Homo sapiens: one gene and its partners. The protein of the gene in region 4 purifies or fractionates together with the protein of the main gene of each other region. This does not show direct contact. Each region holds a gene or a part of one and is shown on either strand. Other genes may lie near its edges.

Evidence for each region.
Region 1: the proteins of SLC9A1 (region 4) and XXYLT1 purify together in Homo sapiens (co-immunoprecipitation; one large-scale study listed by IntAct). This does not show direct contact.
Region 2: the proteins of SLC9A1 (region 4) and AGPAT3 purify together in Homo sapiens (co-immunoprecipitation; one large-scale study listed by IntAct). This does not show direct contact.
Region 3: the proteins of SLC9A1 (region 4) and SLC30A4 purify together in Homo sapiens (co-immunoprecipitation; one large-scale study listed by IntAct). This does not show direct contact.
Region 5: the proteins of SLC9A1 (region 4) and HTR1E purify together in Homo sapiens (co-immunoprecipitation; one large-scale study listed by IntAct). This does not show direct contact.
Region 6: the proteins of SLC9A1 (region 4) and ACVR1 purify together in Homo sapiens (co-immunoprecipitation; one large-scale study listed by IntAct). This does not show direct contact.
Region 7: the proteins of SLC9A1 (region 4) and STX12 purify together in Homo sapiens (co-immunoprecipitation; one large-scale study listed by IntAct). This does not show direct contact.

Annotation. Positions count from the first base shown.
Region 1 is NC_000003.12:195,225,965-195,230,240, forward strand, and holds part of XXYLT1 (xyloside xylosyltransferase 1), read right to left. Parts: intron 893-4,276; coding exon 745-892; intron 1-744. UniProt on the Homo sapiens protein: Alpha-1,3-xylosyltransferase, which elongates the O-linked xylose-glucose disaccharide attached to EGF-like repeats in the extracellular domain of target proteins by catalyzing the addition of the second xylose.
Region 2 is NC_000021.9:43,979,996-43,984,271, reverse strand, and holds part of AGPAT3 (1-acyl-sn-glycerol-3-phosphate acyltransferase gamma), read right to left. Parts: intron 3,284-4,276; coding exon 3,085-3,283; intron 1,969-3,084; coding exon 1,880-1,968; 3' UTR 1-1,879. UniProt on the Homo sapiens protein: Converts 1-acyl-sn-glycerol-3-phosphate (lysophosphatidic acid or LPA) into 1,2-diacyl-sn-glycerol-3-phosphate (phosphatidic acid or PA) by incorporating an acyl moiety at the sn-2 position of the glycerol backbone.
Region 3 is NC_000015.10:45,481,485-45,485,085, forward strand, and holds part of SLC30A4 (probable proton-coupled zinc antiporter SLC30A4), read right to left. Parts: 3' UTR 1-3,601. UniProt on the Homo sapiens protein: Probable proton-coupled zinc ion antiporter mediating zinc import from cytoplasm potentially into the endocytic compartment. Controls zinc deposition in milk.
Region 4 is NC_000001.11:27,106,309-27,110,584, forward strand, and holds part of SLC9A1 (sodium/hydrogen exchanger 1), read right to left. Parts: intron 3,470-4,276; coding exon 3,219-3,469; intron 1,558-3,218; coding exon 1,340-1,557; intron 1-1,339. UniProt on the Homo sapiens protein: Electroneutral Na(+) /H(+) antiporter that extrudes Na(+) in exchange for external protons driven by the inward sodium ion chemical gradient, protecting cells from acidification that occurs from metabolism.
Region 5 is NC_000006.12:87,009,969-87,014,070, reverse strand, and holds part of HTR1E (5-hydroxytryptamine receptor 1E), read right to left. Parts: intron 1-4,102. UniProt on the Homo sapiens protein: G-protein coupled receptor for 5-hydroxytryptamine (serotonin). Also functions as a receptor for various alkaloids and psychoactive substances.
Region 6 is NC_000002.12:157,764,300-157,768,575, reverse strand, and holds part of ACVR1 (activin receptor type-1 precursor), read left to right. Parts: intron 1-2,379; coding exon 2,380-2,655; intron 2,656-4,276. UniProt on the Homo sapiens protein: Bone morphogenetic protein (BMP) type I receptor that is involved in a wide variety of biological processes, including bone, heart, cartilage, nervous, and reproductive system development and regulation.
Region 7 is NC_000001.11:27,814,114-27,818,389, reverse strand, and holds part of STX12 (syntaxin-12), read right to left. Parts: intron 540-4,276; coding exon 467-539; intron 1-466. UniProt on the Homo sapiens protein: SNARE promoting fusion of transport vesicles with target membranes. Together with SNARE STX6, promotes movement of vesicles from endosomes to the cell membrane, and may therefore function in the endocytic recycling pathway.

The DNA of each region.
Region 1 (4,276 bases), on a different chromosome or scaffold from region 4:
CTTTATAAATCACCCAGTCTCAGGTATGTCTTTATGAACAGCGTGAGAACAGATTAATACACTGGTCAATATCCAGGGCTCCAGAACCCATTAAGGATCACTGTAGGGAGATCCTAGAAACCAGACACACTCTAGGAGTTAGACCCTCCAAGGCTTCCAGTCCAAGCATGACCAGACCTGCCAGAAATTCCACATAAGCTGGACCTATCACACACTGGATGATGCATCTCTCTTTCCTGGAGACAGACGCCCAGAAAATCCTTCTAATTGCGCATCAGAGTTTCTTCAGAAGTTCTACATGGTCGTAATTTGCACCTCTCACATCTAGATTTGCTATTTTAAAATCAGATAAATACAGATTCAAACTAGAAAGAACAAGAGCATAAATTTGGATGGAGGATCATCTAATCCAACCCACCATTTTTCAGATGAGCAAACAAAGTATGGGGGTTGAGCAGTGGGGAAAGAAGGGGGCGAGTGCAAGGGGCAGAGTCCAGACCAGAGCCCAGAGACCCCCTGTGTCCTCATAAATGGACCCCGGGAGCTATGCAACCAAGGCCCTGCCCTTGATTCTTGGTGTAGGAAGCTCGGTGGTACAAAGGGCTTGGTCTGGCTCCCTCGTCCACTCTTTCATGTTCAGTGGAGCTATTCTCCCTGATACAGGGCCTGGGCAGTGTTGGAACCAGGGAAATGGATGCAAAAGTCAGACACCCAGGGGCTATTGCTCCTGGAAGCCCAGGTTACCTTTGGGCATGATCTGATGCATGGCGACCGAGAGGAAGAAGATGGAGTCACTGTAGTAGGTTCCCAAGCCAGCACTGAAGTGCTTCTGCATGGCCTCCACGATGGGGAAGAGCTTATCCGTCAGCACAGCAACATCGTGGAAGATGACCTGCAGCAGGTGCAAAAAAAACCAAGGCTCAGCAAACCAGTTCTCACTGCAAGCTCAACACCCAACAAGCACCTGGGCCCACAGAGGCAGAGGCAGACAGTGCCTCTCCAGGGTCCACAAGCAGGGGATGGGGCTAGGGGTAGCAACGGAGAGTTAAGGAAACGAGAAACAACCAGGAGTCAGAATTGAGGCCGCACTAAGGAGATGGGGACACTGTGTGAGGGGTGGCATGCAGGCATGCATGTACGGGCTGTGCAGTGGAAGAGAAGTGGGAGGACAGGAAATGGAAACAGCCCCTAGTCTGCTTCCTGCTTTTGAACATGAAGCTGGGCCCCCCTGAAGGTAGCTCTGTGCCCAGCGACTGGAAACCACGTGAGAGTGTGTGATCCTCATCACATTGCATGGCTAACACTGCTCCAGGCATCGCCACCTCCTGGTGGCCACTGCATCTGTTCCATAGGCCAGTCCGATGCTCCAGCTCTACCTCCCTCATCCAACAGTGTGAACAAGGAGAGGGTCTGGCCACTGGAAAATGGAACCCGGAAACTGCTCTGTGCTGCAGTAAACTCACACTCAACTAGCATTTCTTGAGTATCACTGACACTCTGGAGGCACTGTGAGAAGTATAAGGAATAACCAGGTACACTTTCCTCAAAGCACTTAGAAGTCCAGAGGTATAATCAGCTACGGCAGAGCTTTGCAATTTATGAAACACTCTCACATACCCACACTGATCCCCACGACAACCTAGGGCTTCTGTGAGGCAGACATCACTATTATAGCCTCCAAATTACAAATAAGGACGCAGACACTCAGACAGGTTACACTTGCAGCAAGTCACACAGATAATAAATGCAGAGTCAGAACTTGACCCTGGCCTCCAGATTCTCAGCCCCACACTCTTTCCACCATAAACGCATCCTCATTCCTTAACAGCAACCAACAAAGGATGAAGACATCAGCTCAACCCGCGATTAGAGCAGACAAGAGTACTAACGCGATCCTGAGTTGGGTTTCCTTGTCTAACTCTACTCCAGAAGATGAGAAGTATGGCCCATGCGCAGCCCCAGCTTCACATGTGATACCAGATGACCATGTACTGGTCCCACAGGTCTTGCAAGTTTTTCCTGTTGTTCCATGTGCCCCCACAGGATCTAGATCCTTCTACGACACACAGGAGGCACTCAAGCCAGAAGGCTGGGTGTTCCTCCACCTTCTTCCTCAGTGCTCCTAAGAGTTCTGCAAGCGCCACCTCCCGCCACCATCTTCTCTGGTATGTGACAGGACAAGCCTGCCACACTGCATCCTAGCTGCTCAATCACCACCTCATCAACTCCGAAGAGCCCACCTGAACAGGTGCCAGCAGCAAAAGGCAAAGCCACGTGAACCCCTGACTGCCCTGTTTACACTGTCACTTGCCCTGCCAGACAGTGGCAAGTGGTGCCCTTGAAGCTCTCCAATAGGCGGGCTCCACTCCATCACTCACCTTTCCCCTTTCCCTCCACCTGCCCTTCCAGTCTCAGGGTGCTGCCTGCACTACCTGCACTTCCAGAGCCATCGGTGGTCGTGGCCCTGTAAACCACCGTCTGCTCTTCCCTACTGTTGGTTCTGCTTTTGGCCTATATTTCACTTTTTTTTTTTTTTTTTTTTTTGAGATGGAGTCTCACTCTGTCAACCGAGGCTGGAGTACAGGGGTGCAATCTGGGCTCACTGACACCGCCTCCCGGGTTCAAGCGATTCTCCTGCCTCAGCCTCCCAAGTATCTGGGACTACAGACGCCCGCCACCACCCCCAGCTAATTTTTTGTATTTTTAGTAGAGATGGGGTTTCACCATGTTAGCCAGGATGGTCTCGATCTCCTGACCTCGTGATGCGCCCGCCTCGGCCTCCCAAAGTGCTGGGATTACAGGCATGATCCACCACACCCGGCCTATTTCCCTTATTTCTTCTATATGTATCTCTTTTTTTTTTTCGAGACAGAGTTTCACTCTTGTTGCCCAGGCTGGAGTGCAGTGGCGTGATCTCGGCTCACTGTAACCTCTGCTTCCCAGGTTCAAGTGATTCTCCTGCCTGAGCCTCCCAAATAGCTGGGATTACAGGCGCCCACCACCATGCCTGGCTAATTCTTCTACTTTTAGTAGAGACAGGGTTTCACCATGTTGGCTAGGCTGGTCTCGAACTCCTGACCTCAGGTGATCCACCCACCTCAGCCTCCCAAAGTGTTGGATTACAGGTATGAGCCACCGCGCCCGGCCTGTATCTCTTACATAGCTTATTTCTCTTATATTTCTTTTTAACCTATATCTCTCTTAGTTCACCTTTCCTTTTATTCTTGGGTCTCTTTTAATTTCTAAAACACTATTAAATTTAGAAAAACTTTGTTACTATTTTTTTATTTTTAATTTTTGTGGATAGAGTATGTATATATATTTATGGAGTATATGAGATATTTTCATACAAGCATACAATGCATAATAATCATATCAAGGTAAATGAGGTATCCATCACCTCAAGCATTTATCCTTTGTGTTACAAACAATCCAATTATTTTAGTTATTTGAAAATGTGTAATTAAACTACTTTTTACTGTAGTCATCCTATTGTGCTAGCAAATACTAGGTCTTACTCACCCTTTGCCAATATTTTTTGTATCCATTAACCATCTCCTCCTCCCCCAACTCACTCCACTACTTTTCCCAGCCTCTGATAACCATCATTCTAATCTCCATCTCCACGAGTTTAACTGTTTTAATTTCTACCTCCCACAAATAAGAACATGCAAAGTTTGTCTTTCTGTGCCTGGCTTATGCCACTTAACAAAACGATCTCCGGTTCCATCACTGTTGTTGCAAATGACAGGATCTCATTCTTATTTATGGCTGAATAGTACTCCATTTTGTATATGTACTGTTTTCTTTTTCCATTCATCAGCTGATGGAACCTTAGGCTGCTTCCAAATCCCAGCTATTGTGAATAGTGCTGCAATAAACATGGGGGTGCAGATATGTCTTCGATATACTTAATTCCTTTCTTTTGGGTATATATCTAGCAGTGGGATTGCAGGATCATATGCTAGCTCTATTTTCAGTTTTTTGAGGAACCGCCAATCTGTTCTCCATAGTGATTGTACTAATTCACACCAACAGTATATGAAGGTTCCCTTTTCTCTACATCCTCACCAGCATTTGTTACTGCCTGTCTTTTGGAGAAAAACCATTTGAACTGGAGTGAGATGATATCTCATTGTAGGTTTGATTTGCATTTTTCTGATGATCAATGATGTTGAGCACCTTTTCATATACATGTTTGCCATTTGTATGTCTTCTCTGGAGAAACATCTATTCAGATATTTTGCCCAATTTTTAATTAGATTATTAAATTTTT
Region 2 (4,276 bases), on a different chromosome or scaffold from region 4:
TGCTCAGCCAGGGGAGCGCATGCCCTGCCCACGGCACAGCTGCCCGAGTGGGCGGGTGGAGGGATGAGATTTCAGATGGAGGGAAGCACATTTCCAAAACAACAGTGTCTGCAAGCGTGTCTCGCATGGTGTCGTTGGTCTCATCTGGTTTCGTTGGTCTGCCCCTTCACCCCTGCGAGGAGCCGTGCTCTGAGCAGGTGTGCACAGGTGGCGTCCCGCACACGCCCTGAGAGCACGGCCCCCACAGACCCGGGGCCCGGCAGCGCCTCCATCATGCAGAACGCTGCCGTCCCCTCCAATCTCCCCAGGACACTTAGGCCCGATGCCTAATTATGTTCTCGGTTTACTTTTCTTCATGCCTCTTTTCTCCATTTGTTTTCCCCTAGAAAACTCAACCTACCTCTATTCAGAACGCTGGTTTCAAGATATCAGAGATAACACCCATTTTGGTTTTTTTACCTTGCTAAAAAGATGAGGGCGCTGTGACTTAGAACAAGCAAGTCGAAAGCCAAATGCAGGTGGGCTGATGGTACCGCAACCAAGTTGAGCGTTCTACCACTGCCATTGCCCCAGGGGCCCCACCTGGCCATGCCGGGGGAGTGGACATGCTGTAGGGAGAAGCATCCCTCGCTCGGCGTGGGCCAGGGGCTCGCTGCAAGGCCAAGGGAGCCAGCATGACCGGCCGAGCGCTGCCCTCTGCTCTGCCTGGACTCTCAGAGACGTCCAGGAGGTAGGGAGCTGGGCGCTCAGGGGTGGCCGGGCCACAGTGACACCGGCCAGGATGGGGGCGGGCCTTCCCCAAGGACACAGTGCGAGGCTGGGGGGTGGGGGGTGCCCCACCTCTAGTTTCCAGCAGGAAGTTGAAAACCACCAAGAGATCAACCAGTAAAAATAAAATCTCTAGAAGTCAATGAGCTCAGTGTTAACAGTCTCCAACCACCTTTAAAAAACAGAGGGTTGACGGTGCCGTCGCTTCTTCTGAAGCATCCTAGAGTCCCACAGGCTGCCCTGTTCTCCCTCCTTGGCTCCTGATCTGTGGGATGGGGGGGCGCGCGGTAGCCCCGAGGGTCCTCCCTCCCCAGCACCCAGTGTGGAGGGACCAGGATCTGACAGCCATGAGAGCGACAAAGGAGCTTTAGGTGCATGGAGAACTCTGCATTTCACTGAGTTCTCAGGGGCCCATCCACTTTAAAAACAGATGTACGTATTTACACACAAGGTCAGATAGGAGCTAGGACAGACAGGGCTCTAGAAAGTGAGGTGGGGCGTTCGCCCTCAGCCAGCCCCAGGACAGGGCAGAGTGAGGGCTCCGACTTCGAGGAATGGACCTGACGTTCGTGCCGGTGTGCTTATCACTACGGGCGCCCTCCACGGGGCCCCCACTGGGAGCCAAGGTGCTGAGCCGAGCGATGCTCCCGGGGGACGGGACCCGGCCGTCCACTCCCAGGAGGACAGCAGAAATTCATTACGAGACAGTTTCGGGGGCGGGGGGTGCAGAAGAGGTGAGGGGCCAGGTTAAGTTCCCAAGATAACTGATTAAAAACCAAAAAATTTGATCTAAGTTTAAGGAGAGAAAGCAGCCAAAGGCTCCCTCTTGGAAGCGGAGTTCTGGAGAGACGGCGTCCGCGGGAGGCCTCTCCGGCCGGACCCACCTCCCACGGGCGCGCGTGGAGATGCTGGGACCCTGCGCTGTGGGAGGCTGAAGACTTCACCTGACAGGCCTTCTGAATTCTTTACTCTTGGCTCAAGTTTTGTTAATATTAGTCACCAGTTAATAAGAAAAATAGTTTCTAATTGTCTTTTCCTGCACTCTGTGTGTTGGTTTTGAGTTAACTGGATACCACCGTCAGGGCCGCGTGTGTTCAGTCACAGCCATTAATTATTCCTTTTTCTTAAACTCTTGGTTTCCGTAGCTGGAGCCTTTTTCTATCTCAGTTACTCCTATCAGTCTGCGAACTCCAAAGGAAGCTTTCAAGACAGGAGAGAGAGAGAAGAGGTGAGACGGATGACTTTGCCTTTTTGCTGTAAAACGTGTTACTGGGGCTTCCTTCCTCTGCCCCAGACCCTGTCCCTCTGCCCCGCACCCAGTGGCCTCTGCTGTCAGTGAGTAGGTGTGGCCCGCGGGGAGACAGCCCTCTCAGACCGTGGTCTGCTCAGGCAGGGGTGAGGGGCACGTCTTCTGACCGGCTGGGTCCGAGGCAGGTGGACACGTGGACCTTGCCCTGCCTGCCCCTCTGGGTCTTTGGCTGGTGGGAGCAGAAGGGCTTCGGGGCATTCTAACAGCTCGGCCTTGCAAACCCAACAGGTGACAGAGGTGGACGAGCAGGACCCTCGGATGTAAGCAGGTCACATCCTGTCCTCTGTGGGTGGCCTCAAGTCATCTCGTAGTCCAATGGGAGAGGCTGGTGGCAGTCACTGCCTCTCAGGACCCCTCCCACCAAGGCCCCTGGCAGGGGCGGCAGGAGCAGGGGAGGAGCTGGCCCAGCTGCTGGGCCTGGGGAGTCGGCTCACGGGGCGATGCACACGGACTGTGTCTCCACGGACAGAGACCCCTCAATTACGGGGTGTGGGTGGGCGCCGGAGCTCACCACAGGGACAGGCTGGGTGTCTGTTCGGCCCCAGGCTAGCTGATGAGTCGTGGTGGGCCTGGCATTGTGCCTGGGGTGGGCACACAGTGGGGAAGTCACTGGGGGTCAATGGGGAGGAGCTGAATGATGATGTCCTGCTTAAACCTCCCGAATGGCCAGCCCAGCCTGACCCCTAAGAGCCCAAAAGCAGACAGGGGGGCTGGGGACCCTCTCGGGGACCCTCTCGTCGGCATCCTCAAGGGCGCCAGCCAGTGGGGCTGCAGTGGGGATGGCGCCAGGTGGCGGCCGTTCGGCTCTCTGGGGAGGCGACCCTCAGCTCAGTGCAAGAATCCAGGCTCTGAGGCCCGCAGGCCGTGGGGGGATCCTGGCTCCAGGGTCCATAACAGCCAGGCCCCTGCCTCCCACAGCCACTGTGATGAGTCACCAGGTCCCGGACCCTGTGGCTGATACTGTGAGGCCCGTCAGAGTGTGAGCTGTTAGCGACAGTGTCCATTACCTGCTCCCACAAACCCCAAGAAAGTCAGGATCAGGAGAGGTGATCCGCTGGCAAAGACGCCCAAGACAAAACTGAAGAGGGGAGACAGGAGAATGGTGGCCCAGGACAGGAAGTTCAGGAGGGTCCACGGCCTCCGGGCAGGCTTAAACTGCTCCCCTGGAAACATGCCCTTCTGATTATATATCTCCTGGAGCGCGTCCTAGAAGAGTCAACAGAGAAAAAGGAAGCGTGAGGCTTCTTTACAAGCTATTATTTCAATGCAGGAGAAGATTGTTGGCAATGAAAAACGACTCAACCTAAAAAAAGCGCCACGTCAATTAAGAGCACAAATCACAGAAGCTGCAGGTGCAGGCGAAGCTGGCTGTACGTTTTTGGAGAATCTGATAGCGTGCATCGAGAGCTCGCAAGCATATCAACCCTTTGACTGAGGAAGTCTCCCAGGAAAATAATCGGTCAAGAAAGCAACGTTGTGAATACCAACACCTGCCTGCCCAGCACTGCCCCGGCCACCCGCCACATCCCACACCTCCCACGAGCCAGAGGCAGTGGGGGTGGCAGGTGTGGCCTGTGTGAGTCCCGCGGCCTGGATGCAAATCCCTGCAAAGCGCACTCTCAGCTGCACGGCCCAAGGAAAGTTCCTTAACCTCGCATACCTCGGTTTCCTAGCCTGGCAAAGGAGGCTAATGAGGAGCTGGGAGGAGAGAGGAGCCTGGCCAGGGCCACCTGCAGAAGGTTCTGCCTCTGGTGGGAATGTCAAAGGCACAGGCTGGCAGGAAATCACCATGCCTGATAGAGCAGACACTCCGCAGCCACTGCCCGTGGGCGGGGCAGCCCGTGGGACTCTAGGATGCTTGGGAAGTAGTGAAGGGCACCATCAACTCTCTCGTTTTTTTTTGTTTTTTTTTTTTTTTTGAGATGGAGTCTCACTCTGTCGCCCAGGCTGGAGTGCAGTGGTACGATCTCGGCTCACTGCAACCTCTGTCTCCCGGGTTTAAGCGATTCTCCTGCCTCAGCCTCCTGAGTAGCTGGGATTACAGGTGCCCACTACTGCGCTAATTTTTGTATTTTTAGTGGAGACAGGGTTTCACCATGTTGGCCAGGCTTGTCTCGAACTCCTGATCTCGTGATCCACCCACTTCGGCCTCCCAAAGTGCTGGGATTACAGATGTGAGCCACCACACCTGGCCGACCC
Region 3 (3,601 bases), on a different chromosome or scaffold from region 4:
CTCTGATTATTTGCAAATACTAATTAAAATATATCACACCAAAGAACTGCCAAGTTTTTATATTGTGGTCTGTGGTCCTGTCATAATCTGTTTTCCCAGTGCAAAATTAATAATGCTATGTGTTCATCCAACTCAGCCACTGCTTTTCACAGGGCATAGAGCTCTTTGAGAGCTCAGCTGAGAAGTGTAATGCATGGTTGTAGCTCAACAAGTGAAGGATAGACCAAACGCTTTTTGTCAGAAGTCATTCAGTCCTTGGTCCTATCTGCTAAGTTAATGTCCTTTTCTGTGGGTTAAGTTACAAAAAGTGAAATCAAATTCTCAAATCTCATAGACTCCGTAAGGTAAAGATACAAACTATGTACTTTTTCCTACAAAAACAAAGCACAGGAAACTTTATGTGTACCTCACTTTAAGCAGAACACGATAGTTAAGATTTACAGAAGTTTTCATGGCTGGGTGCGGTAGCTCACACCCTGTAATCTCAGCACTTTGGGAGCCCGAGGTGGAAGGATTTCTTGAGCCCAGGAGCTCAAGACCAGCCTGGGCAACATAGGGAGACCCCATCTCATTAAAAAAAAAAAAAAAAAAAAAAAAAAAAGATTTACAAAGGTTTGCAGTGTTTCTGTATTTTACAAAAGGATTCTTTTTGGCTGGGCACAGTGGTTCATGCCCATAAGCCCAGCACTTTGGGAGGCCGAGGTGGGCAGATCACTTGAGCTCAGGAGTTCAAGACCAGCCTGGGCAACATGGTGAAACACTGTGTCTACCAAAAATACAAAAAATTAGCTGGGTGTGGTGGTGCATGCCTGTGGTACCAGCTACTTGGGAGGCTGAGATGGGAGGACCACTTGAGCCTGGGAGGCAGAGGCTGCAGTGAGCCCAACTGTGCCACTGCACTCCAGCCTGGGTGACAGTGAGACACCATCTTAAAAAAAAAAAAAGAATTCTTTTCAATACTCAAATGAATTTTAGCCTGTTTTATCAAATACATTTTTTAAGGAACAGGTCGATACAAAAGCGAGATATGCCTTTATAAGATAAAGAAAAGTTTACAAGAAACAAGCTCAATAGATATAAAAAAATGATTAGAGTATGATGAATATTTTTTTCCTTTCTACTTGCTAGATACTCAAAGTCCATAAATATGTCCAGATGTCCACTGAAATATCTCTCATTTATTCTTACTTGGTTTCTATATGTAAGAATATTTTGATTTAAATAGTTTATATGCTCCTGAAATTTCTGAGAAATTCAAGTCATTATTTTAAATGACTTCACAATAGGAATCCCATCATGTATATTTTCTTTTCCTTTTTGTTTTTGAGATAGGGTCTCATTTTGTTACTCAGGCTGCAGTGCAATGGTGTGGACATGGCTCACTGCAGCCTCAACCTCCTGGGCTAAAGCACTTCTGCCACAGCCTTACAAGTAGCTGATACTACAGGTGTGCACGACGCCTGGCTGATTTTTATATTTTTGTAGAGACAGGGTCTCTACAAAAGACCAGGCTGGTCATGAACTCTTGGCCTCGAGGGATACTTCCACCTTTGCCTCCCCAAATGCTGAGATTACAGGCATGAGCCACTGTGTCTGGCCACATAAATTTTCAGTTCAATTCAACAAACATCTACTGGGTTTCATTAGAGGGACCATCAATCCTTTTATTGACACCATTAACTCCCAACAATCTTATAGGTAAATCTGGGTTTTCTTATCTTAGGTTTACTTATAGTAAGGTACTTGGTAAGAAGATAAAATGTTTCCTATTCTTCATTTATATTGTAAGTCATCTGCATGCTTATCTAGAATTTCAACTTACAATTTGCCTGGTACATTGTTACCCTACTCTGATTCTTAGAGGAGCCCAATAACCATATCCATTCTTCGTGTAAGAAACTGTCACTGTTGAAAAGGGACTCCAAATGTGCATAAAAGATAATCTCAAAACCAATGGTTGCAAAATGAAACATGAACAGTCAAGCTGCCTCTTTAACACAGGCATTTACAATTAGGTTGCCTTCAGTTTGGAAACCTCTGTTTAGTTTCCCTGCAACACAGATTTAATGTCCATCCCTATCTAGTGCTTTAAAACACACACATACAGGCCAGGCATGGTGGCTCATGCTGTAATCCCAGCACTCTGGAAGGCCAAGGCAGGCGGATCACCTGAGGTCAGGAGTTCAAGACCAGACAGGCCAATGTGGCAAAACCCTGTCTCTACTAAAAATACAAAAAAATGAGCTGGGTGTGGTGTACCTGTAGTCCCAGCTAGTTGGGAGGCTGAGGCAGAAGAATCACTTGAACCCAGGAGGCAGAGGTTACAGTGAGCAGAGGTCACGCCACTGCACTCCAGCCTGGGTGACAGAGTGAGACTCTCTCAAGAACAAAAACAAAAACAAAACCACACACATATATAAGGTCAAAAATCCTTTACATTTCTGTTTTCTCAAAGTAATATCTTCCCCCAACCCCTTGGACATTTCTGCTATGGTATTATTGGAAAACCTCAAAATTGTATTTTAGGGTTTCTGGAGTCCATGGAGAATCCCTAACCCATATCATAAAACATAAAATATATAATAAAACATAACCCATATCATAAAACATAAAATTCTCTCTGGATTAATGTTGTTGAACTATATGTGAAAGGTGGGAATTATAAACTGAACCCTCTAGAGTTTACCCTGAAAGGCTAAACACACAGATGACCTGGAGTGGAGGCAGGAACCAACGTACCACATTTTTTGTACAAATTGTTGGCAGTTCTTAAAGGGACAGAAGATTACTGTTTACATTTTGCAGTCTCTTGCTTTTTTAAGACAATTTCATGAATGATAAAAGTGATGTCGGGAAGACATAAACCTGAAACTCCAACCCCCATCCTCGCTCTTTTATTTTGTTTTAAATCATCATATAGTAATTTGAGTTTAAGACTAACTTCAGCCATTCAGAATAATATTGAAAGTATTTCCTAAATCATTTAATAACAGTGACCACAATAAATAAAGATTTGGTTCTAAGATTACAAATAATGAAAAATGTTAACTTTGAGATTCAAAACCCTGTAGCATCTGGAAAAGGTTGTTTATAAAGTATAATCATAACAATAACATTAAGACTTATGTGTGAAATAAAACATTTCTGAAACACTTAGGAATACATGCTTATTCCACTTTTGGGATAACTACTAGTACTTCCTGAAATCTGTTGGGTAGTAATTTCTGTAAAAAGAAAGCAGCAATTCCAGAAGCTGGGTGTCGAGATTATTATACATAATAAAAAAAATTCAGTTTTCCAGCACTGGCTTAATATAAAATGGCCTTAAAAAGTATTTTTAAATGCAAATATTGAATTCTTGATGCTTCCTTTAAGACACGTACTCTGTCAAGTTAATGAAGTATGATCTTGGATTGTCTTCTATGAGGTATCTGTAGAGTCACATCTCATTCTGTAAACAGTGTTTGGGAAACATCTTCATCTGAAAATTATGGCAAAGTCTCCTTTTACCATTAAACAGAGACTAGCACTGTCAGGCTGGGGCAACTGTTTGAGAGACTGATGCTTGATACGGACACAGCTGTCAGGGATTCCATTTTCT
Region 4 (4,276 bases):
GACATCATGGAGGCCTCCAGTGGCTGGAGGGCTGGGGGCAGGAAGAGGGAGAAAAGATCAAACAAGATGGGTCACAGGTCAATACTTGTTAAATGTGATGGGTGTGTGGGGGGTCATGATCCTATTCTCTCTACTTTTCTAAGTACTTGAAATTTTCCATAATAAAGCATAAAAAATGCAGAGGGCTGGGCCCAACCTCCACCCACAGAACCAGAATCCCTGGAGGATGAGGCTCAGGAATAAAGGGGATTTCAAAAGTGCACCAAATAAATGTGAGGTCCTGCCAGGCTTGGGGACATGGACCTAACCCTCAGAGAGGAAGTGAGAGATCCAGGGAGGAGGCGACTGAGGCACTGGGGTGAGGCATGTGGGGCACATGTGAGTGGAACCCATGCACCTGGGGCCTGGTCCCCACGTGTGCCCCGGCCTGCTGCATAGGTTTGGAGGACTGCACGTGGCTCTGCATGCGATTCGGCACATGCTCACGTCACCTGTCTTGAGACAGTGCAGAGAGCACTCAGCTCAGAGTCACAGACCTGGGTTCTGTGGGCCTCAGGCCCCTCATCAGGACAGCCACAGCCACAGGCTCAGAGTCTCAGGGCCCCCTCACTTTGACACAGCCTGACTCTGTCCCCAGAGACCACAGCCTTGCTGTGACACAGGCTTCTCCCTGCTGAAGGGCCCATCATGGAAATGGGAAGTCCCTCCTGTCTAGCTGTGCTGGGAGCAGGCAGGAGCCAACCAGGAAACCTCCACCACAAACTGCATCACACATATACCCCCAGCCCCTCCACACACACACACACACACCCAGGCCCTCTACACACACACACCCACACCCTCACAGCCCCTCCACACACACCCACACCCTCACAGCCCCTCCACACACACACACACACACCCAGCCCCTCTACACACACCCAACCCCTACACACACACCCAGCCCTTCCACATATACACCCAGCCCCTCCACACAACTATACACACACTGCACCACAGCCCAATCCCTCCACACAACACACACATATATACAAAGCCCTCCACACAACATACTACACACACACACCCCCAACCCCTCCACACACTACACACACACCATACACACATCCAGCCCCCCTACAATGCACTACACACACCACACACGCAATACGCATACACACACACACCACAGCCCAGCCCCTCCACACAATACTTATACACTGCACCACATGCACACACCACATAGCCTGGCCCTTCCACATAGTGCACTGCACACACCACACACACAGCACCACAGCCCACCACCCCCCACACACACCCCACACCACAACCCCCACCCCGCCCCAGCCCTGGCCCTCACCCAGCACGCGGGCGATGAGGCAGAAGAGCAGGGTGCTGATGACGAAGGTCCAGTTCCAGTGGTGGGAGCCGGCCACCGTGGAGACGCCGAGGAAGATGAAGATGAGGGTCTCGCTGACGCTGCTCCACATCTTCAGGAAGTATTTGATGGTGGTGTGGGACTTGTGGGAGATGTTGGCCTCCACATAGGGGCGCATCACCACTCCTGAGGCTATGAGCCTGGAGCAGGAAAGAGCGGGGTCAGGGCTCCGTGTCGAGCTGCACCTGCTCGAGCCCCTCCACTGCCAGGGGCAATGGGGCCACGACCAAGGTGCCCATGTCCCAAGCTCCTCTATGGGCCAGGGGCCCGCTGTGTGCTTTACACCCTCTTGCCACTCATCCTCACATCAACCCTATAGACACGGTGTATTCCTCCATTTTTTTTTTTTTTTTTTTTTTTGAGACGAGTCTCACTCTGTCACCCAGGCTGGAGAGCAGTGGCGCGATCTTGGCTCACTGCAACCTCCGCCTCCCGGGTTCAAGCAATTCTCTGCCTCAGCCTCCCGAGTGGCTGGGAATACAGGTGCCCGCCACCACGCCTGGCTAATTTTTTTGTATTTTTAGTAGAGACGGGGTTTCACCATCTTGGCCAGGCTGGTCTTGAACTCCTGACCTTGTAATCCACCCGCCTTGGCCTCCCAAAGTGCTGGGATTACAGGCGACGAGCGCATGCCCGGCCCTATTCCTCCATTTTTAAAATGAGTGATCTTGGCTGGGCACGGTGGCTCACGCCTGTAATCCCAGCACTTTGGGAGGCCGACAAAGGCGGATCACTTGAGGCCAGGTATTCGAGACCAGCTTGGCCAATGTAGTGAAATGCAGTCTCTTCTAAAAATACAAAAATTAGCCAGGTGTGGTGGTGGGCACCTGTAATCCCACCTAATTGAGAGGTTGAAGTGGGAGAATCTCGAACTCAGAGGCTGCAATGAGCTGAGATCGTGCCACTGCATTCCAGCCTGGGTGACAAGAGTGGGACCCCGTCTCAAATAAAAAAATGAGAGATCTGACTCTAAGAGAAATAGTCACCTCTCCCCTGTCACGCTGCCTGCAGGCAGCAAAGCCAAGACACACAAACCACAGTGTCCAACTCCAAAGCCTGCACCTTTGCCCCAAGGCCACACTGCCTCTTGACCCAATAGGAGTCAATGACACAGACCCATGGTCTCCTGGGTTCATTCCCCTCAAGCGTGGCATCTGCCATTACACAGGGGTCTCCACAGGGAGCTTTGTTCCAAGCAGCTGCTTGGAGCTCGGAGTCCTCCCAGCCCAGTGCTCACACCCGGGCTCTGCTCCTGGGAGCCAGGGGCTCTGAACCCCAGTTCTGCCTTGCTCGGCACTGGAACACCTTCACCCCTCACTGCCTCCCCACATCCCATTCTCCCCATTTCCAGACCCGGTGGAGACCTCAGGACCGCCAGGACTCAGGCCTGGTGAGCCTCCTACTGGGGCTGCTGAGGGGACTCCCTTTGAGACAATGAAGTAGCAGGGCTGTGGCTTTCCTCAACCTGAAGCTTAGTGGCTTCCAAGGCTCTGCTCTCCTATACCCTGGGCTTGCCTTCATGCAGGTCATTCTTGCTTCATCTGCTCATAGCCTGAAATGCCCTCTCCCGATTCCTGGACCCCAGGGGGCGCTGCAGAAGTGCTCCTCTTCTAGGAAGCCACTGATGCCCTTGGCCATTTAAATGGCTACCAAGCAGGTCTGGAGCCTGGAGTTCATGTCTCATCCCTGGAGCTCAAGGCTGGGCCCTGGGAGCTCCGTGAACCTACGAGCCTGGGGAATCCAAGCTGGCAGCCCCCGCCCCCACCCCGCCAAGCCCACTGCCTGCTGCACGCAGACTCACGCCATGATGCCTGACAGGTGGAAGAGCTCGGCTGACAAGTAGGCCATGTAGCTGTAGAGGAAGACGAAGAGCGGCTCGATGACCCGGATGTGGGAGGTAAATCGGGAGGTGAAGGCTGCGATGACCCCGTAGACCACGCCCACAAGCACCCCGCCCAGGGCCACCACGAAGAAGCTCAGGAAGCCGAGGAAGATGTCCACGATGCCCACGTGTTCGTAGTTGGCAAACTCCTCAAAGAGGTGATACAGGACCTGGGGAGGGTGTGCAGGCTGGTGGGTGGGAGGAGAGGGCCCTGGCCCCACGGTTCCCTGGGGTCCACCCAGGGCAATCCTGTCCCCTCCGTTAACCATGGCCACAAGAAGAGGCCACACGGTAGCAGAGAAACCCTAGTGCCAAGCAGGTGCTCAAAACCTCAGCCTGGGGCTGAGGGGCTTGCTCTGGGCCAGCCACGTGCCCCACTGGTGAAGGGTGGGCCCTGGGAAGCTCTGTGAAGACCCTGAAGCCAAACTGCCTGGACTGGAATCCTGGCTCTGCCACTCCTGAGTTGTGTACAGGAAGCAAATTCATCTCCCTGTGTTTCAGTTTTCCTGTCTATAAAATGAGGATAATAATACCAAATCTTAGGACTGCTGTGAGGACTAAATCAGCGAATCAAGTGCTCGGAGCCTTACCTGATGCAGTGTTAGCCACATCTGGTGCTATCAAGTCTGCCTCTCACTGCCTGACCTTGGGCACGTCATGCCCATCACTGGGTTTCAGTCCCTCCTTCAGCACAAAAAAGGGACGTTCACACAATGAACTAGAATGTCATTTCTTAACCTCTGGAGCTTTCTGAAAATACACATGTTCAGGCCATACTGGACTTGGACTCTCTGGGATAGGGCCAAGAAATCTCTATGTAACAAGCACCCCAGGGGTTGCAATGAACAGCCAAGTTCAGATGCTATGGAATTAGAGGCTAAGGCATCCCTGTCTCCTGGACTGGGAAATAGATGGTCATTGCAACACTACCATCAGATGTTTAAGTGGCACTTCATACACTGTAAAGCCCTTTGATA
Region 5 (4,102 bases), on a different chromosome or scaffold from region 4:
AGGTGTTCTCATTGTTCAATTCCCACCTATGAGTGAGAACATGTGGTGTCTGGTTTTCTGTCCTTGCGATAGTTTGCTCAGAATGATGGCTTTTTAATGATCACCATTCTAACTGGCGTGAAATGGTATCTCATTGTGGTTTTGATTTGCATTTCTCTAATGACAGTGATGATGAGCTTTTTTTCATATGTTTGTTGGTTGCATAAATGTTTTCTTTTGAGAAGTGGCTGTTCATATCCTTCGCCCACTTTTTGATGGGGTTGTTTGTTTTTTTCCTATAAATTTGTTCAAATCGTTTTTGACAAAAACATCACAAAATTTTAAATGTACTTTGCCACCCCAATTAATTTCTTATTTATATTTATTCTTTTATACATGTTTATATATAAAAAGGCTTTTTTTTACATTTGAAAATATATATTCATATTATGTAACATTAAACATTCTGGGGCCGTTAAAGAAAAAATTATATTGCTTATAATAAGCAGCTTTCAAATCAGATTTTAAACTTTCACAGTAAATATGCTGGCGTGGTGGCTCACACCTGTAATCCCAGCACTTTGGAAAGTTAACTGCAATAATCAGAGCTAAAAATGGATACATCCTATGAGGAGTTGATGGAGGACCTTTTTGGGGATTTGTAACTTTAAATTTCCACTTTATTGTGACATAAAAAATATCATGAGTCCAAGGCCATATTTAAATTGTTTTTCATAAAAATTACAAATAGGAGAGAATTACTCTAAACCAAACTGGTTAGTGTACGCTGCTCCTCATTTCCAGGGATACTCTAGAGCCTCTGCTTTATACCATCCCAGTGAAGGTCAGAGCACCAGGGAGATGAGGTTATAGGGATGATAGATGTTAAGGCCGACTTTGGCATATTATTCTTCTGGGGCTTTGTCCTTTGCAGCAGATGAAGAGGGACAAGAATCTCTTTCTCATCCAGGAAGAGTTTCCAAAGCACCTAAGCATTATCAAGAAGGAGGAGTCAGCTGGCACCTGCTCATCTTAAAAATTATCTTAAAGAGGGTTTTATATTTTGGATCTGGTTCCTCCATTAGAAAACTGACATTTCACTTCATAAGTCCTGATTTACTTTAACCTAAAAAGTGTGCCTGAGTCAGCGGTTTTGGAGAGAAAGCTTGGAGTGGTGACTACCCACATGGACTCTGAATGCTGACCCTGCCACTTGTCAGCTGCAGTGTAATCCTAAGCATGTTCTTTAACGTTAGCCTGCTTCAATTTCCTCCTCTTTAAATCAGGAATAATGACATCTTTCTCTAAAGTAAGTAGTGTGAAGATCAAATGTGTTAATACACGTAGAAGCTGAGAACAACGCCTAATACATAGTAAGTACTATGTAAGTGTTTGCGGTCATTTGTTATACTAATTTTCCCAGTGATTTTTGCATTGGGTAATGGAGACAGATTTCATCCCACAAACTCTGATGTGTAATAAAAGCCTATTAAAAATAAGTCAACTTAATTTTGTTCTTTCTTTTTTTTCTTTCCAACTTTTATTTTAGGTTTTGAGGGTACAAGTGCAGATTTGTTTCATGGGTAAACTGTGTGTTGCAGGGTTTGGTGTACAGCTTATTTCACCACCTAGGTAATAAGCATAGTACCCAAAAGGTAGTTTTTCAAATCTCACCCTCCACTCACCCTCTACCCTCATGTAGGCTCTGGTATCTATTGCTCCCTTCTTTGTGTTCATGTGTTATTCAATATTTAGCTCCCGGTTATAAGTGAGAACATGTGTCAACCTAATTGCTGCTTCTAAGCTTCTCACTTCTCATGCTTGAGACTTTCTCTAACCCCAACCACACCCCCAAGTCTCTGGAGGATTATTTAGGGCCAAGGCATTGAGGTTTGGTTGGGGAGAGGGGTTTCAGATGTTGCATGCACAGAGAAAGTCCCTGGTAAGATATTTACTGTCCCCCACTCCTACAGTTCTTTCAGATCCCCAGACTGCTTCCGTAACACGCTTAGGAAATGTCCTAAGGTTGGGAACCCCATGCCTAGCCCCTAAGTCCCTAGCCACACCATGCATGTATCCCTTTTTAAAATATTATAGACTCTTCAAGGCACTTCCAGAACTTCTGGCCCAAGTCTTAGACCCCCAGGATCTTTTCTGTTCCTCCATTTTGCGCGGGAAAGGTATGTAGACCATTGGAGAAATTCCTTTCTTCCTTCATTTTTTTTTCTAACCCTTTCAGCCACCTATTAAAAGCTCTCTTTTCCTTTTTTACTTATTTACAAATCTTTTATTAATAAATCTCCTATGGGCTTGGCTTTTGAGAACATAAATAGGGATTACTGTCTGATACTTCCGCTTTCTGAAATATCTGTGAGGTAAGGAAGCATAAACCAGGCCACATGCTTGACTGAAGGAAAGGGAAAAAATAGAAAATAGCATCCAGCCATACATGTAACATTTCTTGTTGACATATTCCCCTTTCCTAGCATTCTTAGAGTTATCTGAAATATGGGACAAATATCCTTACCACAAAGTTTTGCTAAGACTTTGAATTACCAGAAAATATTATATAACGTCTCAACCATTAAAAGTTTAACATGCTGGTGGACCTGGAGCATTCCTGATCAACTCATTTACGTTGCATGTAACCACCATCATTTAGAGAATATTTTCCTGAACTGCTTTGAAGGAACCCAGGGTATACTTGCCTTTCTCTATTTACTTCCCAGCATTTTCCCAGTCAACCTGTGTTAAGTACTGACTTCTGTCCATTCCTAGACACTTCCAGATACCACTTCCCTTTGATAAGTCATTCCCTCCTGCTGCAAGGTTTCTGTTTTGCACATGGCCTCTAAACTGATCCAGGAAAACTGCCCTCAACTCTGTCAGCTTAGCCACCCTCTCTCCTAGCAGCATTTCCTGGCTCCACATGATGTTCTGGGCTGCAATTGCTTTACCTCTTGCCTACCAAAAATTCAGAGGTCACATAGTAGCTATTGCAAATGGAGTTGAAGCTGTCTAAAGTCAATGTATTAAAAGTTTAAGCATCTTAGACCAATAACTACTTTAAAGAAACCACAGAGAATCAAGAAACATGTTAAACTACCTTTTGATTATGCAATCATTGGAATCCAAACTGTAAAAAAATTCACGGGTTAAATCACCCAGTTTCTTAAATAAATTGCAGACAAGGAGGGCGATAAGAAGTGTGGCGTATAGGCCGGCGAGCGCCGCCCGGGAGGCAGCGGCTGGAGGAGCGGACGGGCCCCGCGGGGCCCGAGGGCAAGGAGCAGCCGCCTGCCTTGGCCTCCCAAAGTGCCGAGATTGCAGCCTCTGCCCGGCCGCCACCCCGTCTGGGAAGTGAGGAGTGTCTCTGCCTGGCCGCCCATCGTCTGGGATGTGAGGAGCCCCTCTGCCTGGCTGCCCAGTCTGGAAAGTGAGGAGCGTCTCCGCCCGGCCGCCATCCCATCTAGGAAGTGAGGAGCGCCTCTTCCCAGCCGCCATCACATCTAGGAAGTGAGGAGCGTCTCTGCCCGGCCGCCCATCGTCTGAGATGTGGGGAGCGCCTCTGCCCCGCCGCCCCATCTGGGATGTGAGGAGCGCCTCTGCCCGGCCGAGACCCCGTCTGGGAGGTGAGGAGCGTCTCTGCCCGGTCGCCCCTACTGGGAAGTGAGGAGCCCCTCAGCCCGGCCAGCCACCCCGTCCGGGAGGGAGATGGGGGGGTCAGCCCCCCGCCCGGCCAGCCGCCCCGTCCGGGAGGGAGGTGGGGGGGGTCAGCCCCCCCGCCCGGCCAGCCGCCCCGTCCGGGAGGTGAGGGGCACCTCTGCCCGGCCGCCCCTACTGAGAAGTGAGGAGCCCCTCAGCCCGGCCAGCCACCCCATCCGGGAGGGAGGTGGGGGGGTCGGCCCCCCGCCCGGCCAGCCGCCCCGTCCGGGAGGTGAGGGGCGCCTCTGCCCGGCCGCCCCTACTGGGAAGTGAGGAGCCCCTCAGCCCGGCCAGCCACCCCGTCCGGGAGGGAGGTGGGGGGGTCAGCCCCCCGCCTGGCCAGCCACCCCGTCCGGGAGGGAGGTGGGGGGGTCAGCCCTCCGCCCGGCCAGCCACCCCGTCTGGGAGGTGAGGGGCG
Region 6 (4,276 bases), on a different chromosome or scaffold from region 4:
ATTAATGGGACAGATAAACTTCTTCCCTAAGACCTAAGGGGCTTAGTGAAGGTGAGATAATAAAAATGTATTCGTTTATTATTTATTTATTTAATCAGAAGCTCCTTTTTCTTGGGAGAGGAAATCAGTAGAGGCTACACAGATATATAACAGTAATTTAATTTCTTTTGAGTGGTGCTGTTAGAGTTTGGGGTATTTTTTAAGAAAATCATTAAAGATTAGTATTATTTGGTTCAAACTGTTAAAGCAGAAACATTTTCTTTATTAAGAATAACTAATGTCCAAGAACACATTTTGATGCATATTGTGGCCAGCTAAGGGCTCCAAGAGAAGCAGCATCGAGGGGAAAAGCAGACTGGGGAGCAGGGAAGGAGTGGGAGACTCAGGGCTGGCCATGGGAATAGGCTTAGAGGAAGAGAGAGAAAGAAGTAGAGGGTGAAGGTGCTAAAATATTATTCAGTTTGCTTTGCATATGTCCCATAGGTGAAAATGTGAAATTATTTTTTCTCTGAGTAGAAATCAGTTTGTTTGGGGACAGTATGGCATAGTCAGTAAGAGTCTGGGTTCTAGAATCAGACCTACAGGAACCTAATATCAATTATGCGATCTACTTACTTCATGTGGTTTTTGGAGGATTGCATATAAAGTTCCAGGCATGTAGTACTCAATAATTATTAGCTGCCTCTGTTGTGGTTGCCGATGATGATGATGATCAAATAGGGGACCTTTCTTGGCTCACAGAGCCTTCCTATGCAAGGTATCAGGACAGCTAGCACTAAATTCAGAGTTGATAGCAACTTAAATAGCTGTGTGATCCTTGGCATCTCCCAGCACCAACTTTATTATCTGTAAAATGAGCATAATGATGTCTTTCTTACCAGCTTGTTGGGAAAAATCTCATGAGAAAATATATGTGAAAGTGACATAAATTTTATATAAAGTACTATGCAAGTATAAAGCATTTTAATGTATTTTCTCTTACATTTTCATAAGTCATTTAATTCTTCCTCAAGCCATATCCGTCTTAAAAAATTTTTTTTCTCACCTCTTTTTAAGTCCCAAACTTCACTGTCTACCAGCGTGGTTCATATATGTGAGAATAATCCTAGAAAGGCACCTCTGTAGCAGAAAAGGCAAGCACACGTCACAATTTATTTCATAAGATAGGAAGTGCCCCTAACTTCCAGACAGTCTTCTGCATGCTCAAAAGTTCCCTCCAGATGTCTAGAAAAATCTCTTCCGGGCTGATCGCGATGTCTCACGCTTGTAATCCCAGCACTTTGGGAGGCCAAGGCAGGTGGATCACCTGAAGGTCAGGAGTTTGAGACCAGCGTGGCCAACGTGGGGAAACCTCATCTCTACTTAAAATATAAAAAATTAGCCCGGCGTGATGGTGGGCCCCTGTAATCCCAGCTACTCGGGAGGCTGAGGCAGGAGAATCACTTGAACCCAGGAGGCGGTGGTTGCAGTGAACCGAGATCGCGCCATTGCACTCCAGCCTGGGCAACAAGAGGGAAACTTCGTCTCAAAAAAAAAGAAAAAGAAAAAGAAAAATCTTCTCCAACCTCTTCATCCACATTTGTCAGTCACTCACTTTACTTCAAGACCAGTTGAGTTGCCACTTCCTAATGGAAGCCTATTGTAACACCTAGTCTGAATTACTATAATTTCCTGCTCTGGGCTCATGTTGCCCTTTGAAGATATATATTATAGTACTTTTCGTATTTTATTGTAGTGTTTTCGTTTTTACATCTGTCTTCTTTAGCCAGCAAACACTATCATCTTGGTTTTTCTGTGTGTGACTGACAGATAGCATCATAAATACTCATATATTTGGTTGGTTTCTTTTTTTATTTCGTGAATCAGTCAATCATTTAATGTAAACTTGCCCCCTTTATTTTACATCTGAGCAGATATAGGCTAAGGAGCCTAACTGAGTTGCCCAGTATTAGACAAGTAAATCACAGGCAGAGTCAGGACTAGAATACAGTACTCAGGTTTTAGATTTGATGTTCTTTTAGGATGGTTGATGAATGGTCTGTTCCTAAAATATCAACATGCTGAAGGGCTTGGCACTATCATTATGGGTGAGCACAAAGATATTATTGCTATCTGAAACTTAAGGAATGTAAAATATCTTTTAAAGTATTACTTATAATGAAATGAATATGAAATTTTCCTATTAGCAGTGCCCTTTTAAGGAATAAATGCTATTATTTTTCTCTGTTGATGCTTCTGTAAACCTCCTCTTAGGGCAATTGGTCAGTTTAATTACTTTTTGTTACAGATGACATTTACTGTGTAGGTCGCTATTTCTAAATACTTTAAGTTATAATGTGGAATCCTCATGTATATTAATTTTTTTCTTGCTCTCTCCAGGTTTCATTGCTTCAGACATGACATCAAGACACTCCAGTACCCAGCTGTGGTTAATTACACATTATCATGAAATGGGATCGTTGTACGACTATCTTCAGCTTACTACTCTGGATACAGTTAGCTGCCTTCGAATAGTGCTGTCCATAGCTAGTGGTCTTGCACATTTGCACATAGAGATATTTGGGACCCAAGGGAAACCAGCCATTGCCCATCGAGATTTAAAGAGCAAAAATATTCTGGTTAAGAAGAATGGACAGTGTTGCATAGCAGATTTGGGTAAATTTCTAAAAATATTTTTTTCCTCACCAGTTTTATTTTTGTTTCAATGGTTAGGTGAGTTGCATCTCTCCCCCACAACATGTTATGCAAAATTTCAAACATGCAGAAAAGTTGAACATTTACAATGAACACCTTTATACCCACCACATAGATTCTCACATTAACATTTTACTATCCTTAAGCATTATTATGTATTTATTCATCTATTCATCTCCCCATCCATCAGTCCATATCAACCTTTGATAGAGTTGAAAGTAAATTGCAGACAAAGGAATTCTTTCTTCTGATGATTTCAGCATGTACACTAGTATATCATTGACAAGAATGCATTATTTGCTTTTTCTTTTTTTCAGGTAAAATTTATATACTGTGAGATATACAAATCTTAAGAGTTTTGACAAATGTTGTAAAACCCAAATCCCTGTCGAGATACAGAGTTTCCCATTACTCTTGACAGTTACCTCAGGCTCATTCAGTCAGTCCCTGCCACACCCCACCTCAGAAGTAACCAGTACTGTTGCATTTTGGTTTCACTAACCTTCACATAAAGTAGGTGCACAATAAATACTCTATAGAATTAGTTTATCTTAAAAGTGGTCTCTAAAATCATTCTGTAACCAAGGCAAAAGAATCAAGTTAAGAAATAGGAAAATAATCCCCGAACTGATTCACTCTTTTCCCTGTTAGGATAGCTCATTCTTATGGTGTTAGAGTAGTACTCAGTGTAGCTTTAGTTGCATTATAAATAAGAGTATTTTCATTTATAGTGGCATTTTATATAAAACCATGTTCTTCCTGGATTCCTAGAATATTGGCTAAATAATTGTGCTAATGAGAATTCAGGGCCCTCTACTTGATTAAACATGGTTTATATGATATTTATATTATTGCAATTATTGTTAGCCTGATAAAGGTTTAGACAAAAATAGCTTTAGTTATGTAAATAACAAAGTTTATTTTTGTTTGTTTTTAAACATAAGGGATTTGACATGTTAGGAAAATTTATTTCCTTTGAATCCCTTTAAAGTCTTTGCTTTTACATTGAGAAATTACAATGTTTCCCAAGTAGGAGACGAAAGATTTTAGGATAAGCATTGAAAGAGCATGGCCCTAAAGTTTTTTGCAGGCATTTTTAGTTGTGGTGTAGAGGACTTTTATGGCTTATTCCATGGCTCTTAGAGCCAGGGCGATTTGGGTTTAAATTCTGGCTTTCTCAATTACCCTGTATTTTTGTGCAAGTCTATTTATCTATTTACCTGGCCCAAGTGCTGACACTGCTTTCACTCAGTGAGACAGGGACAGTGAGGGCGAAGGCGGATGGGGTTGGGAGTTAGCCAAGAGGAACTCCAGGGCTTGACGCTGTGCCCTGTACTTCTGCGTTGTTAGAAACTTGCATAACAGTGTGATCGTGGCCGGGCGCGGTGGCTCACGCTTGTAATCCCAGCACTTTGGGAGGCCGAGGCGGAAGGATCACTTGAGGTCAGGAGTTCAAGATGAGCCTGGCGAACGTGATGAAACCCCATCTCTACTAAAAATACAAAAAAAAAAAAAAAAGAAAAATAATAATAATAGCCGGGCGTGGTAGCGTGCGTCTGGAATCTCAGCTACTGGGGAGGCT
Region 7 (4,276 bases), 710 kb from region 4:
TTTTTAATTGAGACGAAGTCTCATTCTGTCACCCAGGCTGGAATACAGTGGCGCAATCTCGGCTCACTGCAACCTCCACCTCCTGGGTTCAAGGGATTCTCCTGCCTCAGCCTCCCGAGTAGCTGGGACTACAGGTGCATGCCACCAGGCGTAGCTAATTTTTTGTATTTTTAGTAGAGACGGGTTTCACCGTGTGAGCCAGGATGGTCTCCATCTCCTGACCTCATGATCTGCCCGCTTGGGCTTCCCAAAGTGCTGGGATTACAGGCCTGAGCCACCACGCCTAGCCTAACTCCTTTTTCTTTCTTTCTTTCTTTTTTAAGAGACAAATTCTCATTATGTTGCCCAGGTTGGCTTCAAACTCCTAGATGGTGCTTCAGCCTCAGCCTTCTGAGTAGCTGGGATTACAGATGCATGCCAAATACTATCAACTCACCTTGAGGTTAAAGGTATCAATAATACATACCAATCAGATCACCCTGGTCATGGATCATCATGGCCAAATCTTTAAATATCTGATTGACATCCAAAATGTCAGCCTAAGGAAGACAAAAAACAATTAACTAACATTAAGCAACATGTTAGAAGATTTGTTTCCCTCACGTACCTAAAGTTTTAGCTATTAACACGTGTGTTTTTAAGGCTCTACAAAGCATGCTTTCTCCATAAACAGAAAATAATCTATTGCTGCCTACCCAATATTGTAAAACAGAAGGCACATAAACTCACTCTTCAAGCAACATTAATGGGACATGCTACATGAGAACCAGTAAGAGCGCCCAAGTCCAAACAGTACAGCAGAAGGCTGGAGTGCTGATATAGACAAATTCTTGGTGTGATAGCCCTATGTGGAGACTGCTAGGCCTTGTGACAAAAGCCTGTTGAGTGCCTCCCGATGACAACCACTGGGACTTTGGACTACAGAATTTAAATGTTTATACAAGATCATGCTATCTGAGGAATGCAAGGAGGAGCTACAAGTAAGGAGCCTCTTTTCCCCTGGGATTGACTCTGGAACTGTGTGAGGAGTTGCTGGATTCTGTCATCACTGGACAATGCCCTATGGTAACTCCCAACTGACTGACAAAAAGCTGATGGTCTGTGGATAGCAGTTCCAAAGTGAATGGACTACAACCTATTTACTGCTCTGATCAAAGAAGGTAAACACAAATCAGCTCAGTGGGCTGAACTGCAGCTTGTTTTCCTAACAGCAGTGGAAGAATTTAACATTGGCAAAATCCCCTATATTTGGGTCTTTCTCCCTCCCTCCCTCCTTCTCTCCCTCCCTTTCTTTTTTCTTCCTTTTCTTTCCTTCCTTCTTTCCTTCCTTCCTTCCTCCCTCCCTCTCTTTCCTTCCTTCTCTCTCTCTCCCTTCCCTTTCCTTTCCTTCCTCCCTCCCCTTCCTTCCTTTTTTCCCTCCCTCCCTTCCTTCTTTCTCCTCTCTCTTTCCTTCCTTTCTCTTTCTTTTTTTTTTGAGACAGAGTCTTGCTCTGTCACCCAGGCTGGAGTGCAGTGGCACAATCTCGTCTCACTGCAACCTCCACCTCCCGGATTCAAGCAATTCACCTGCCTCAGCCTCCTGAGTAGCTGGGATTACAGGCCCATGCCACCACGCCCGGATAATTTTTTATTTTTAGTAGAGACGGGGTTTCACCATGTTGGCCAGGCTGGTCTTGAACTCCTGACATCGTGATCCACTGCCTTGGCCTCCCAAAGTGCTGGGATTACAGGCATGAGTCACTGTGCCTGGCCTCCCTCCCTCCCTCCCTTCTCTCTCTATCCCTCCCTCCCTCCCTTCCTTCCTGATCCGCCTGCCTCGGCCTCCCAAAATGCTGGGATTACAGGCATGATCCACCGCGCCCAGCCTCCGTCCCTTCTTTCTTTTTATTTATTTTTATTTATTACTTGTTTTTTTTGAGACAGAGTCTTGCTCTGTCATCCAGGCTGGAGTGCAGTGGCACAATCTCAACTCCCTGCAACCTCCATCCCCTGGGTTTGAGTGATTCTCCTGCCTCATCCTCCCCAGTAGATGGGATTACAGTCGTGCACCACCACGCCCGGCTATTTTTTTTTTCTGAGGTAGAGTTTCACTCTTGTTGCTAGGCTGGAGTGCAATGGTGCAATCTCGGCTCACTGCAACTTCCGCCTCCTGGGTTCAAGCAATTCTCCTGCCTCAGCCTCCCAGGTACCTGGGATTACAGGATGTACCACCATGCCTGGCTAATTCTTTATATTTAGTAGAGATGGGGTTTCACCATGTTGGTCAGGCTGGTCTCGAACTCCTGACCTCAGGTGATCCACCCACTTTGGCCTCCCAAAGTGCTGGGATTACAGGCGTGAGCTTGTACTGTGCCCGGCCCTAATTTTTGTATTTTTAGTAGAGACAGAGTTTCACCACATTGGCCAGGCTGGTCTCGAATTCCTGACCTCAACTGATCCGCCTGCCTCGGCCTCCCAAAGTGCTGGGATTACAGGTGTGAACCACCACGTCTGGCCTATATTTGAGTTTTTCTGACTCATGATCAGGCAGAAGAAAGACAATGGAAACCTGTCTTATTAAAGGGGTGCTCATATGGGGCATGACCCTATGGAAATTTGAGGGCAATTCCCTTCCAGGTTTGAAGGGTTATTGGAATCATAACCTGGCAAGCATTTCAATCACTTGCTAAGAGTCTACTATAGTGGACTATCTGCTAAAGCAAGTCTTGTCAGCATTTCAATCACTTGCTAAGAGTCTACCATAGTTGGGGTAGTCTGCTAGTTGCTGTGAATACAGCTAACTGGGGTGGACGTGGGGAATAAGTGCACAATAAAATAAATAAGAAGGAAGAGTACTATATAGGAAATGGCTGAATTAATGGTATAGAAAGGTGTGGAGAAAAGGAAGACTCTGCAGAAGAGGTAAGACATGAGTTGTGCCTTAAAGCAAAGGAGAGGTCATATGAACAGAAAGGCAACTCAGTTAAAGAGCAAATAACCTAGCTTTGCCATAACATAGAATGTGTATGTCAGAGTTTGGAAATTACTAGATACGAAAATTGAACCTAGGCTAAGGAATTTGGACTTTCCTCTGTTGAATATGAAATGATCCATTATACCCTGGCATCCATTACATTTCTTTCCTTAGCTCCATATGTCTCACTCCACTTTGCTATAACGGTACATTCGTCCCTTGGTATCCGTGGGGGATTGGTTCCAGGACTCCCTCCCTCTAAGTCACTGATATAAAATGGCATAGTATTTGCATATAACTTGTGCCCATTCTCTCCTATATTCTAAATCATCTCTATATTACTTATATAATGTTACATTACTATTTTATACTACATTACTATTTTACATAGCACTTACATTGTATTAGTAATGTACTGAACTAATACAATGTGTTATATAAAATACTGTTACACTGTATTGGTTTTTACATTTGTATTATTTTTTATTGTTGTATTATTTTTTAGTTTTTTTTAAATATTTTCACTCCACGGTTGCTTGAGTCTGAGGATGTGAAACCTAAATATATCGAGGGCCAACTGTATTTTTTTTTTTTTTTTTGAGACAGAGTCTCGCTCTGTTGCCAGGCTGGAGTGCAATTGCTCACTGCAACCTCCGCCTCCCAGGTTCAAGCACTTCTCCTGCCTCAGCCTCCCCAGTAGCTGGAATTACAGGCATGCACCACCACACCCGGCTAATTTTTTGTGTTTTTAGTAGACACGGGGTTTTACCATGTTGGTCAGGCTGGTCTTGAACTCCAGACCTCAGGTGAGCCACTCGCCTCAGCCTCCCAAAGTGCTGGGATTACAGGCATGAGCCACCGCGCCCGGCTAGTAATTTTTCTTTGAAGGAAGGATTATTATTATTATTTGAGACAGAGTCTTGCTCTGTTGCCCAGGCTGGATTGCAGTGGCACGATCATGGCTCACTGCAGCCTTGATCTCCTGGGCTCAAGTGATCTTCTGCCTCAGGCTCCTGAGTAGCTGGGACCACAGGTACATGTTACAGCACCCGGTTAATTTTTTATTTTTTGTAGAGGTAAGGTCTTGCTACACTGCCCAGGCTGTCTTGAATTCCTGGGCTCAAGCAATCATCCTGCCTCAGCCTCCAACTTGCCGGGATTACAGGCATGAGCCATTGCACTTAGCCATATTTCTAATGTTAGACAATTAATTCAATTAGTAGTAGCAGTAGGTGAAAAAGAGTAAAGATATGACATTTTTGAAGGCAATAAAATAATCATAACTTAAGGATAAACTATCCCATCTAAAAACAGACAAGACCA